Linked DNA regions of Homo sapiens: regions 2 and 3 are each linked to region 1. The links come from fine-mapping of genetic effects on gene expression. A gene starts in region 1. Each other region holds a variant in brackets. All regions are shown on one strand. Distances are from middle to middle. Region 1 holds the start of PPM1G (protein phosphatase, Mg2+/Mn2+ dependent 1G). Region 2 overlaps IFT172 (intraflagellar transport 172). Region 3 overlaps GCKR (glucokinase regulator).

What was found. PIP is the estimated chance that this variant, and not a neighbour inherited with it, causes the effect. A credible set is the group of variants that fine-mapping cannot tell apart.
Region 2: its variant is the best candidate, but not a certain one, in a credible set for the expression of PPM1G in subcutaneous fat (GTEx, PIP 0.65).
Region 3: its variant is the best candidate, but not a certain one, in a credible set for the expression of PPM1G in blood mononuclear cells (TOPMed, PIP 0.60).

The regions. Positions count from the first base shown.
Region 1 is chr2:27,408,006-27,412,244 of GRCh38, forward strand. PPM1G (protein phosphatase, Mg2+/Mn2+ dependent 1G) reads right to left here and starts at 1,586. Exons shown (of 10, transcript NM_177983.3): 1 at 1,298-1,586. The coding sequence starts at 1,417. RefSeq lists silencers at 1,067-1,146, 1,167-1,216, 1,287-1,476, 1,567-1,756.
Region 2 is chr2:27,481,690-27,485,928 of GRCh38, forward strand. It overlaps IFT172 (intraflagellar transport 172), which reads right to left. Exons shown (of 48, transcript NM_015662.3): 2 at 3,671-3,814; 3 at 3,329-3,441; 4 at 2,538-2,577; 5 at 2,183-2,248; 6 at 1,891-1,970; 7 at 1,600-1,687. Among named protein-coding and RNA genes, the nearest start is that of IFT172, 5.9 kb to the right of the region's middle. The variant T/C (reference allele first, on the strand shown) is at 2,084.
Region 3 is chr2:27,515,793-27,520,031 of GRCh38, forward strand. It overlaps GCKR (glucokinase regulator), which reads left to right. Exons shown (of 19, transcript NM_001486.4): 17 at 2,996-3,145. Among named protein-coding and RNA genes, the nearest start is that of SPATA31H1, 19 kb to the right of the region's middle. The variant C/G (reference allele first, on the strand shown) is at 1,745.

The DNA.
Region 1 (4,239 bases):
CATTGCATTCCAGCCTGGGCAACAAGAGCGAAATTCTGTCTCAAAAAAAAAAAAAGGGAGCCAAAGCAGATGAGATGAACTATAGGATACACTCCAATCCTGAAATTTTATACCTAATTATAAAATTGTTATTAAGGTCAGTTATGAATATAAAATTTGAATCGGAAAACAAAACATTTAAGTTCATACTGTCATTCCAGAGCTAACCACAGGGAGGAGCGAGGGATCTGAAACAATTCCCAAGGGAGACAGTATTTCGCTGTTACCTGAAGCCCACCCGGTAGGTGGAGAAACCCTCAATACCAGACAGAGTATTTCCCTGGCCCTTTTGCCTAGACTTCAGAATGCTCTTCACAAAGCCACGGTTAACCCGTCTTCCTCCCTTTCCTCCCTACCGCAGTTTTCCCTCTTCTCTTTTGTAGTTTCACATCAAGTTTTACCTAATACTACTACTTTCCCCCCAATATTTTTCTTTTCCCCTTTTGTCCAGAGTAAAATTTTCTAGAAAAGCCCTTTGTAGGTAGGTTGTGATGAAAAAAATTGATGAAATGACTTACAATCAAAGAAACTATAAACTACAATTACAGGCAAATGAGAATTACTGATTAAGTTTTAGAGAAATCCTAAGAGAGAAAGAAAACGAAGCATAATAAAAAGGAAAACCTAGGGACTGACATAATTCAAGTTTTCCGAAGTTAGTAAAAGGCCCTGAAAAGAGTGCAAATGAGTGACAACTCCTGGAGGTCGGGTCCAGCCTCTGAAATTAACATGCAAGAGCCCAAGGCCAGGCAACCAAAATGTGAAACAGACTCTGCCCGGGGTTCCTTTCACTGTCAAACTCCTAGCCAAAAGAGGCTTCCCACATCAGATATTTTAAATATTAAAATTTAAAAAGTTATTCACATCTATTCACCTCTCCCTTGAAAAACAAATGAATAAATAGCCCCTATTTGCGTCTTTACTCCCACACTAAACCTCACACCGTTGATGAGCCTGGAGGGCTAGGTTGGCACGAGAGGATGGCGCCAAAGCTCGGGGAGAGGGCGGTCAGTGGGCGGAAGGTGCCTCTTCCCACATGGCCGAGCCCTCGCCGCCACTGGCCACCGGCACACGGTCCCCAAGCATCGGGAGCTCCCTCTCGGCCCTGACCCCGCGGTCTCTGTCGCCCCGCAAACGGCCGCTGCGGCCGCAGGCTCCCAATTGGGACCCTTCCCAGGGGAGGACCCCATCCCCCGCTCTCTTTCTCCGTCAGATTCCCGCCCCGCAGCGGCCAGCCTATGGGCCCCTGCCTCCTCACCTCCATGGAGACGCGCCAGCCTTGCATGGCGGAGAAGCCGTAGGGCAGCGGCAGGCGCGGGGCGCCGACCCCGTCCCCGGAGCACTTCACCGTGTTGGGCTGGGAGAGGTAGGCACCCATGGCGGCGGCTGGCCGGCGGCCTCAGGTGCAGGAAAGCTGGGCGCGACCCGTGCCGGAGCCGAAGCCCCGGGGGTGCGCGCGGCAGGAGCAGGCCCCGCGGCGCGACCGACGCAAGGTGCCGGTGAAAGGCGCGAGGCCGGCCAGGAGGCGGTAACGGGACGGGAGCTGTGAGGGAGCGGAAGCGGAAACGGCGCCGCTCCAGACCCCGCCCGGCCTGCGCGGCGGGGCCAGGCGCTGCGGGCAGTCATTTCCTTAGCAACTCGCCCCGCCCGCAGGGACAACGGCCCGCCCAACGGCCGCTCCCGCGAGACTAGCGCGACCACGCCCACCAACGGCCGCCGTCCTACTCCGCTTCCTCGCGCAGGTGGCAGGTCGCCTCTGGCAGAACCTCTTCCTTCGTTCCCAGTCCCCAGCCTCTTGGCGTTTTGTCTGACGCCTCTTTTGTGTCGGACTCGACGCTTTCAGCCCGTCCTCCAGTGTTTTCATCCCCCTCTCCCCAACGTTGCACTCTCAGACTCCGCAAACCCCGCCCGATTTGGTTCAATTAAAGTTGACCAGTATTTGTTCCGAGCTTAGGAAGTACTTGGCCAGGCCATGCGAGGCCTATATGAGAAGAATGTGAGTCTTTTCTGAAAGCGAAGACCTCGATCTGTGATATAATTCGAGTTAATACAATGTAGAAATGTTTGGTACAGCCTATTCTGGGTGGGAAAAGCTCAAGGATGGGAGGAGGAGCTGTTTCTTGGAGGATTGAAAGGATGTAGGCTCTCAGAGAGGATGCCTCTGGATTGCATTATGCCACAGGAAAAGGGAATAATGTTATAAGGTTTGGAGGAGTGAGGGAAGAATGTGAACTGCATTTGGGGAGGATTTCTGAGGAAGCTGGCTGGACTCGGAGAATGATTGTAAGTGGTAATATTAACTAGCTAGCTTGATAAAAAGAAGCGCCAAGATGAGTGACTTGGACTTCATTGTCGTCCTGGTGTAACCTTTGGCATCGTTTGTCTAGTCTTTGTATGCAGTGTACATTGGAGGGAGAGAGTCTGGGGCACTGTTGTGTTGTTGTTTTTTGTTTGTTTTTGAGACAGAGTCTCGCTCTGTCGCCCAGGCTACAAGCTCCGCCTCCCGGGTTCACGCCATTCTCCTGCCTCAGCCTCCCGAGTAGCTGGGACTACAGGCGCCCGCCACCACGCCTGGCTAATTTTTTGTATTTTTAGTAGAGACGAGGTTTCACCGTGTTAGCCAGGATGGTCTCCATCTCCTGACCTCGTGATCCGCCCGCCTCGGCCTCCCAAAGTGTTGGGATTACAGGCGTGAGCCACCGCACCCCGCCTACTATTGTTTTTTTTTTAAGACAGAGTTTCGCTCTTGTTGCCCAGGCTGCAGTGCAGTGGCGCTATCTTGGCTCACTGCAACCTCCGCCTCCCAGGTTCAAGCGATTCTCCTGCCTCAGCCTCCCGAGTAGCTAGGATTCCACGCCTGGCTAATTTTTGTATTTTTAGTAGAGACGGGGTTTCACCATGTTGGCCAGGCTGGTCTCGAACTCCTGACCTCGTGATCTACCCGCCTCAGCCTCCCAAAGTGCTGGGATTACAGGCGTGAGCCACCGCGCCTGGCCTGGGGCACTGCTACTAGTTAGAGAGCTCTTACTCTAAGCAGGAGATGAGAAGAGCTGGGAGTAAGGTGGTACCACGCAGGGTGGCAATGGGAATCCAGATGAAAGGACAAATTAGACAATAACAAATAAGACAGATTTGGTAATAAATTGCATTCAAGGGATGGAGAGAAAAGGAGAAATTCTCCAAACTATGACAAAATTGATTCTTTTCAGCCGGGCACAGTGGCTCACACTTGTAATCCCAGCACTTTGGGAGGCCAAGGGGGGGTGGTGGATCACTTGAGGCCAGAAGTTCGAGACCAGCCTGGCCAACATGTGAAACCCGTCTCTACTAAAAATACAAAAATTAGCCAGGCGTAGTGGTGCGCTCCTGTAATCCCAGCTACTTGGGAGGCTAAGGCAGGCGAATAGCTTGAACCCCAGAGGCGGAGGTTGCAGTGAACCAAGATGGCGCCACTGCACTCCACCCTGGGTGACAGAGCAACTCCGTCTCAAAAAAAAAAAAAAGATTCTTTAAAAAGATAAAACTAATCATGGCTTCTTCATGCTCTTCCGATAGTCCAAATTCCTTATAGTTTACAAGACCCTTCATGCTAATCATCCAGATTCACGTATGCCTCTCTTTAACTCTCCATTTCTCCTACAACTCTGCTTCAGCAATGTCTTTGGGTGCATCTAAAGCCATGCTTTCTCTTACACTTTTACCCATGGAGCACACCTCTCCACACCCCTCTTGACCATCACTTTCTCCAGGAAATCTCTACTATCACTATACTAGTTTGGGTCCACACTTGTTTGTCTTTCCTGATAGAATATAAGCCTTTATGAAGGCAGAAGTTCCATTAAACTTACCATTGTGTTTTCCAGCATCCCTTGCAAAGTTGTATGTGCTGAATAATATTTAAATATTTGTTGAATGAATGAATAACACCAAGATTTTGACTCTGCATAACAAAATGTGGTGGAGCCATTAACAGAAAAAGGTGCAGTTTGAGGGGATGCTAGTTTTGGGGGGAAAACAGTGGTTCAGTTTAGGGTGACAACTAATATAAAAACATTGAAAATATTAGATTGGAGTTAAGCCATGAAAGTGGAAAAGATGTTAATTAGGCTTGCAGGTTGCCAGGAACCTAGATGAGATCTCTGACCAAAGCAGTGTAGAGGGAGCATATAAAATTACTCAGCCTTGGTTGCAGTGAGCTGA
Region 2 (4,239 bases), 74 kb after region 1:
GCCACCATACCAGGCTAATTTTTCTGTTTTTAGTAGAGATGGGGTTTCACCATGTTGGTCAGGCTGGTCTCGAACTCCTGACCTTGTGATCAGCCCGTCTCAGCCTCCCAAAGTGCTGGGATCACAGGCGTGAGCCACCACGCCCAGCATGTATTGGAAATTTTTAATATGCACCTGGTAAAGCTCCTCAGAAAAGGAGATGTGCTACACATTAACCAACACCGTCTGGGCCCACAAAGAGCATAGGGCTTCTTTTTTTAAGGAGGGTCAAATTTCAGTATTATACGAATAATTCTTCTTTTTTTTTTTTTTTAGATGGAGTCTCACTCTGTCGCCGGGGCTGCAGTGCAGTGGCGCGTTCTCACCTCACTGCAACCTCCCCTCCCGGGTTCAAGCAATTCTCCTGCCTCAGCCTTCCGAGTAGCTGGGATTCCGGGCACGTTCCACCATGCCCGGCTAATTTTTATATTTTTAGTAGAGACGGGGTTTCACCATGTTGGCCAGGCTGGTCCTGAACTCCTGACCTCAGGTCATCCACCCGCCTTGACCTCCCAAAGTGCTGGGATTACAGGAGTGAGACACTGTGCCCGGCCTATACAAGTAATTCTTTTTTTTTTTGAGATGGCATTTCACTCTTGTTGCCCAGTCTGGAGTTCAATGGCATGCGATCTTGGCTCACTGCAACCTCTGCCTCCCAGGTTCAAGCGATTCTCCTGCCTCAGCCTCCCAGAAAGCTGGGATTACAGGCATGTGCCACCACGCCCAGCTAATTTTTTTGTATTTAGTAGAGACGGGTTTCACGTCAGGCTGGTTTCCAACTCCTGACCTCAGGTGATCCACCCGCCTCGGCCTCCCAAAGTGCTGGGATTACAGGCACGGCTCACAAGTAATTCTTAATGTAAATGATTCAAACAACACACAATTATATAGAGTAAAACATGAAAGTTTCCTTTTTATCCCCCATCTTTTTCCTTTCCCCTTTCCAGAGTAAACTATTAACTCTTTTTTCTATGAATCTACATACATAAATATATATATTTTACATAAATGGGAATAATTTTCACTTTTCATTACTCTAAGAGTTTTTATTTCCCTTTGTCTCAAGGTCCCTTTCACCTAATTCATCCCTTCTTATAAGCAGTAAGCTCCAGGCTCCTAAACACAAATCCTCTCAGTGGCCACATCCAACTTTTTCTCTGTCCCTGAGTTCTCCTCTAGCTTCCTCTCTTAGTATCTCAATCCAAATGCCTTAGAAGTCCAACCTCCTCTAGGAGGGCTCCTGGAATTTCCTTATCCCCTATTCCACAGCATCTTTTTTTTTTTTTTTTTTTGAGACACGGTCTTGTTCTGTCACCCAGGCTGTAGTGCAGTGGTGCTATTTCAGCTCACTTGCAGGCTCAACCTCCTGGGCTCAAGTGATCTTTCCACTTCGGCTTCCTGAGTAGCTGGGACTACAGGCCCATGCCACCATGCCCGACTAATTTTTGTATTTATTTTTTGTTTTTTTGGTAGAGACAGGGTTTCACTGTGTTGCCCATGCTGGTCTCAAACTCCTGGACTCAAGCAATCCAAGCCTCCCACAACATTCTTTATTCATACCTGTGACTCTCCAGAGCCTTCATCATCAAAGAAATACCTAACGATGGTACCATCTGCATGACCAGAGAGAATTCCTTTCCCAGAGCAACTAAAAAAGGAGAAAGGAGAGAAATACAGGAAGAGACTATTTTATCTCACCAAGAAAGCCCCTTTCTCTGTCAAACACAACCTTGTCTGTGCTTCCTGCTACCAGTTCTCCTGCCTTTCATACTATGGTCTTGCAGTCCAGACTTCCCCACAGCATTTTCCTAACACTTCCAGACTCTAGTGATACTACTCCTCTTTACTCACTTTGTTGTCAGGGACACCACGTAAGACTCTGTCCCATAGATGGTAGATGATTTATTAGTTTTGGTGTTTGCTAAACGAACCTGAAAATGGAAAAATTGATACAAGTATGGTTAGGCTATTTTATATTTAACTAGGCCCTAAGAAAAAAAGGAAAAACTGTCCCACAAAACTGGTCCCTATGCATTCTCCCCAG[T/C]ACGCAACTTGATCCTAAGAAAGAGGATGAACCATATTCCTCTCTCCAGAACCATTATCCCTACCACCCCCTCTCTTGTGTTTCCCTTCCCTCTTTTACCTTCCCTTCAGCCAGTCCAAAGACAATGATGTATTCTGCCGGCCATTGCAGACAAGTGACAGCACTCTGCGTGGAAGGAAACAATGAAAAGGATAACCCCATCTGTGTGGGCCAGCACTTTTATAACAACTTCAACACCCCACCACACACCACCACCTCAATCTCCTATAGGGAAGGACACAGCAGGGCTCTAAGGAAGACAGCAGATGACCATGAACAGCCATGAAGCACCATCCTTGCAGTAGGAAAAGTCACATTCAGATGTTAGAAATGCAACTCCTGGCTGTATTTATAAGTAGATATACTGATATATGTTTGTTCATCCTAAGGTTCCAGGGACTGGTCTGAACTTTACCGTCTGGATGAACTTGTTGCAGATGACTTTCTTGTCACCCCTGCCAAACAAAAGAAGGGGAAACATATTAAAAACCACTTCCAGGCCGGGCGTGGTGGCTCATGCCTGTAATCCCAGCACTTTGGGAGGCCGAGGCGGGAGGATCATGAGGTCAGGAGATCGAGACCATCCTGGCTAACACAGTGAAACCCCGTCTCTACTAAAAATACAAAAAATTAGCCGGGTGTGGTGGTGGGCGCCTGTAGTCCCAGCTACTCGGGAGGCTGAGGCAGGAGAATTGCGTGAACCTGGGAGGAGGAGCTTGCAGTGAGCCACAATCGCGCCACTGCACTCCAGCCTGGGTGACAGAGTGAGACTCTATCTCAAAATAAATAAATAAATAAATACCACTTCCATAAACAAATTGCCAAAAATGATGCTGAGGGAAGAGAAGAAAGAGCAGATTTCTTCCCTGGCCCAGTAGTATTTCTGACTACTCTGTAGGAGCCCTGAAAGGAGGTATATGAGGGAGCCTAAGCAGCTTCAGAACAATAACAAAGATGTGACATCACTCTGGGCTTCCAGGATCTCACAGGGCCTCCTGTTGACCTTGGACTGTTTCCTCCAGGGATGGGATTGAAGAACACGTGGGACAGGTGAAGGCAGAAAAGCAAAAACAGACTCCAGAAAGTCTCTGCCTTCAATGGCCAAGCTTGGCTTCTCATCCCCTGTATTTCCCCTCCCCAGTGAGGCATTTCTCTTGCCTTCCCCTTCTTTCCTGGGCCATCCCATCTCCCAGTCTCTATCCTCACCAATCTTCTCCAATCTTGTAGACATAGATGATGTTGTCAGTCTGTCCTATGGCAATTTTAGTGGAATCAGGAGAAAAAGCCATGCCCTTCACCATATAGCTCTTCCTGCCATACTAAGAGTTTAAAAAAAAAAAAAGAAAGAAAAAGAAGTAATGAGTACACATGAAAGAGAAAAGAGAAAAAAAGGCATATGTGTGCTCCTAAGGGAGCTTGAGGATTTATACTGAGAAAAAGGTGGGGTATGCCATTTCCTATGCTGATGGCTAGAAGGCAGACTACGTCTTTCAAGTTGTGAGACCCCATCAATAGGTTAAATAAGGTACACATGAATACACTGTTTACCTTCATGTCAGCTGGTTTGGTGGAGAATTTATCTCTCCGTTCTCCATGTTCATCATACAGCAAGACCACTCGGTCCACTGTGCAGACAGCAAATTTGGCATTGTTCTGGGACCAAGCCATGCAGGTCACCTTTGCAGCTCCATCCTGTAGAGGCAAAGGGGTAAAAACAAACCCATGTGCTGGTCTAGAATGCCAAAAGCATTTCTAGCTTCATTAATTCTAGTGTAATACTGGTCAATTTTCTTCCTGTCACGGTTCTATCCTCAAAACAAAGAGATGCCTGTGGCCCATGCTGGTCTCCAAGGCCTTCAGATCCTGGACTGTGAGAACAACAGGCTTCTAGAGACTCATATGCAAATGCACTAAGAGGCAGGGTGCTAAGTCAACTGTATCAATGAATCCCTGCAACGGCCTCCTCGTTTCCAGGTCTGCTACTGAAATAAATTCAATTAGTCTGGTAAGTTTTGGTCATTAGCCATTCATTCAATTAATATTTTTTTAGCACCTTATTGATCAAGGCACTTGGCCAGGGGCTGAGAGAGAGACAAAAAGCAAACCATAGATCCTGC
Region 3 (4,239 bases), 110 kb after region 1:
TCACTCTGTCACCCACGCTGGTGTGCAGTGATGTGATCAGATTTCACTGCAACCTCAAACTCCTGGGCTGAAGCAATCATCCCACCTCAGCCTCCCAAGTAGCTGGGACTACAGGCACATGCCACCATGCCTGGCTAATTAAACAAAATTTTTTTTTTTTTTTTTGTAGAGACAGGTTCTTGCTATGTTGCACACGCTGGTCTCAAATCCCTGGCCTCAAGCAATCCTCCTGTCCCAGCCTCCCAAAGAGCTGGGGTTACTGGGGTGAGCCACCGTGCCTGGCTCCAATATAATTTTTTTAAGTTCATCTTTTCCTGAGTGATTTAGGATGCTATCTGTGTCACATACTCAATTTCTATGTGCATTGGTCTATTTATGGACTTTCTATTCTGTTCCACTGGTTTGTCTATTGATGTGCTGGTACCATATGTTTTAATTATGGAGGCGTTATGGTATGTTTGGTATCCAATAGGGTTTGTTCTTCATTCTTGTTTTTTTTTTTTTTTTTTTTTTTTTGAGATGGAGTCTCATTCTGTTGCCCAAGTTGGAGTTCAATGGTATGATCTCGGCTCACTGCAACCTCCGCCCCCCAGGTTCAAGTGATTCTCTTGCCTCAGCCTCCCAAGTAGCTGGGATTACAGGCACGCGCCACTACACCAGGCAAATTTTCTTTTGTATTTTTAGTAGAGATCAGGTTTCACCCTGTTGGCCAGGCTGGTCTCAAACTCCTGACTTCAAGTGATCCACTCACCTCAGCCTCCCAAAGTGCTGGGATTATAGGCGTGAGCCACTGTGCCCAGCCTATTCTTCTTTTTAAGGATTTTCCTGGCTATATCCAGGCCGATTTTTCCATGTGTACTTTAAAATGAATGTGTCGCACTCCAAATTTTGTAAAATTTAAAATATTTTTGTGTTAATGGTGTTAATGTTAATGGTATCAATGGTTAGTGGTATAACCTAGATCTAATTGACCTCTCTCCCAAAGTGCAGTCTGACACGCACCCTATAGCATCAGTACTGCATACTTACTGGCCAGTTTCATGCTGAAATTTCATGCTGTTCTTATATTTAGTGTCGTGGACATTCACTTATTAAAATGTTTTCAATATACCCTCTTCCAGGGTTTTGTGTGAACAGCTATTTCTAGAGTTCCAGAATAAAGAGGTAAAAGTAGCAGTAGCCTGTTTCCTCAGCCTGGCTAGGACCACGTGTATTAGTACCTTTTTTTTTTTTTTTTTTAATATGGAGTCTCATTCTGTCGCCAGGCTGGAGTGCAGTGGCGTGATCTAGGCTCACTGCAACCTCTGCCTCCTGGGTTCAAGTGATTCTCCTGCCTCAGCCTCCTAAGTAGCTCTGACTTACAGGTGCTTGCTACCATGCCTGGCTAATTTTTGTATTTTTAGTAGAGACGGGGTTTCACCATGTTAGCCAGGATGGTCTCAATCTCCTGACCTCATGATCCGCCCACCTTGGCCAGTACATTTTCATACTGCTCTAAAGAACTGCCCGAGACTGGGTGATTTATAAAGGAAAGAGGTTTAATTGACCCACAGTTCAGCATGGCTGGGGAGGCCTCAGGAAACTTACAATCATGGTGGAAGGTGAAGGGGAAGTAAGGCATCTTCTTCCCAAGGTGGCAGAAAGGAGAAGTGCCAAGTGAAGGGGGAACAGCCCCCTTATAAAACCATCAGATCTCATGAGAACTCACTATCCCAAGAACAGCATGGGGGAACGCCCCCTGCCC[C/G]CCATGATTCAATTACCTCCACCTGGTCTCTCTCTTGACACATGGGGATTATGGGGATTACAATTCAAGATGAGATTTGGGTGAGGACACAAAGCCTAACCATATCACCAGTTAATTAATCCCCTCAACACCTTTACTGGGCCCCAGTTTCCCTGCTAATGTGCCAATAGGTGTTATAAGTGCCCCAAGGTGGACAAGATATAAGGGCCAAAAACAAGGGGCAGTTTTATACTCGCGATACCACATGTTTGAACAATTTTTTAGTTTTCAACATGCCTTTACATAGGTTCTCTCATTCATCCAGGAGATATTTGTGGCAAAGTAGGAAATGCCCTCATCATTGAATCAGAAGACCGGGATTTAGGTCCTCATTCTCCATCTCGTTATCATATGAGCTTCTCCAAGTTAATTTACTTCTGACCTCTAGTTTCCTCATATGTAGAAATGAGGATAGGTAAACTTATTCTGTAGGGCTGTTAGAAAAATTAAATAGAATTCATTTTTCAACAAACATTTTTTTTTCCCCTGAGACATAGTCTCACTCTGTTGCCCAGGCTGGAGTGCAGTGGCACAATCTAGGCTCACTGCAACCTCCACCTCCCGGGTTCAAGTGATTCTTGTGCCTCAGCCCCCCGAGTAGCTGGGATTACAGGTGTATGCCACCACTCCTAGCTAATTTTTGTGTATTTAGTAGAGACAGCATTTCATCATGTTGGCTAGGCTTGTTGAGAACTCCTGACCTCAGGTGATCCCCCAACCTTGGCCTCCCAAAGTGGTGGGATTACAGGAGTGAGCCACTGTGCCCGGCCTCAACAAATGTATTGATCAGCAAATATGTGTCAGTCATGGTCTAAAAAACTGGGGCCCTGGAGCAGAATAAGTCACCATCTCTGCCCTTTCAAGAAGCCTGTGGTTTAGTGGAATGAATCCCACTCCTCCTGTCTGATACCCGGGGAGAAAAAGGAACAATTCAGCAGGATCAAAATTCTAATATGGAAGGACTCAGAGAACATGTCTGTCTACCTAGGGGTCAAAAACACAAATGGGTGAAGCTACCAGGTTTGCCTGAGACAATCCTGGTTTACATCTATTGCCCTAACATTTAAACGCTGGGCTGCTCAAACAAATCATGTTTGCATTTTGGTCCCTGGTTCTTGACAGTTGGTTTCCTGTCTGATAACAGGGCCCTGTTCACTCTGCTGCTTTTCTGTCCTCTAATTTTTGACACCCCCATGTGTCTGCCCTTTTCAGAAGTTCCAGCGTGAGCTAAGCACCAAATGGGTGCTGAATACAGTGAGTACAGGTGCTCATGTGCTTCTTGGTAAGATCCTACAAAACCACATGTTGGACCTTCGGATTAGCAACTCCAAGCTCTTCTGGCGGGCGCTGGCCATGCTGCAGGTAGGGATATGATGGGGCAGGGTTGGGTGGGACCTGGCCTCAATGCTTAGGCTGCCAGAGGAGGGCATTTTGTAGAGATATGGAAATGTGCAAGGGTACAGGCTGCCTTTTCTGTGTGCTTCTGCTCCTCCTATTAGGTGCATCTTCCCCTTAAGGAGTGTGTGTGCACACATGGGTGTGTTTGTGAAATTGTAATTATTAGGCAAGACTCTTTCAGTTACAAACGTGATGGAAAACGAGTTTATACTGGTTTAAGCTAAACAAAGAAAATGGTGGCTGATATAACTGAACAATCTTAGGGCAGCTGAATCTAATGTGTTCCAGAACTTTCCACCCTTAACTCTGTTTTCCCCTGTGTTGCTCTCATTCTTTTTTTTTTTTTGAGATGGGGTCTTGCTCTATCGCCCAGGCTGGAGTATAGCGGTGCTATTTCAGCTCAGTGCAACCTCCGCCTCTGAGGTTCCATTGATTCTCCTGCCTCAGCCTCCCGAGTAGCTGGGATTACAGGCACCCCCCACCATGCCCAGCTAATTTTATATTTTTTAGCAGAGACAGGGTTTTGCCATGTTGGCCAGGCTGGTCTCGAACTCCTGACCTCAGGTGATCCACCTGCCTCAGCCTCCTAAAGTGCTGGGATTACAGGCGTGAGTCACTGCACCCGGCCGTTGCTCTCATTCTTAGGCAAGTTTTTTCCATTAGGTGGCAAACTGGCCACCAGTAGTGCCAGCCTGACAATTTACGTAGCAACACTAGTGGGCAAAGAGCTTGCCTGTCCTGTGGTTCTTGCAAATGCCTGGTTGGGGGCTCTTGCTTGGGACACATGCATGTCCCTGAAGCAATCACTGTTCTCCAGAGCAAGGGATGCTCTGCCCAGTCTGGATCATGTGCTTTCCCTTCAGGATGGTGGTGGAAGAAGGGCTGGGAGGTGAGCCTCAATCCAACCTCATTACCTGAGCATGGGGAAGCGATAGATCCTCAGAGGAAAACCAAGGTGCTGATACCAGAAGGAGTGGATGTTGAGCAGACGGCACAACAGATGGTCATGAAAATGGGGTCGCCAGATTCGGCAAATAAAAATACAGGACGCCCAGTTA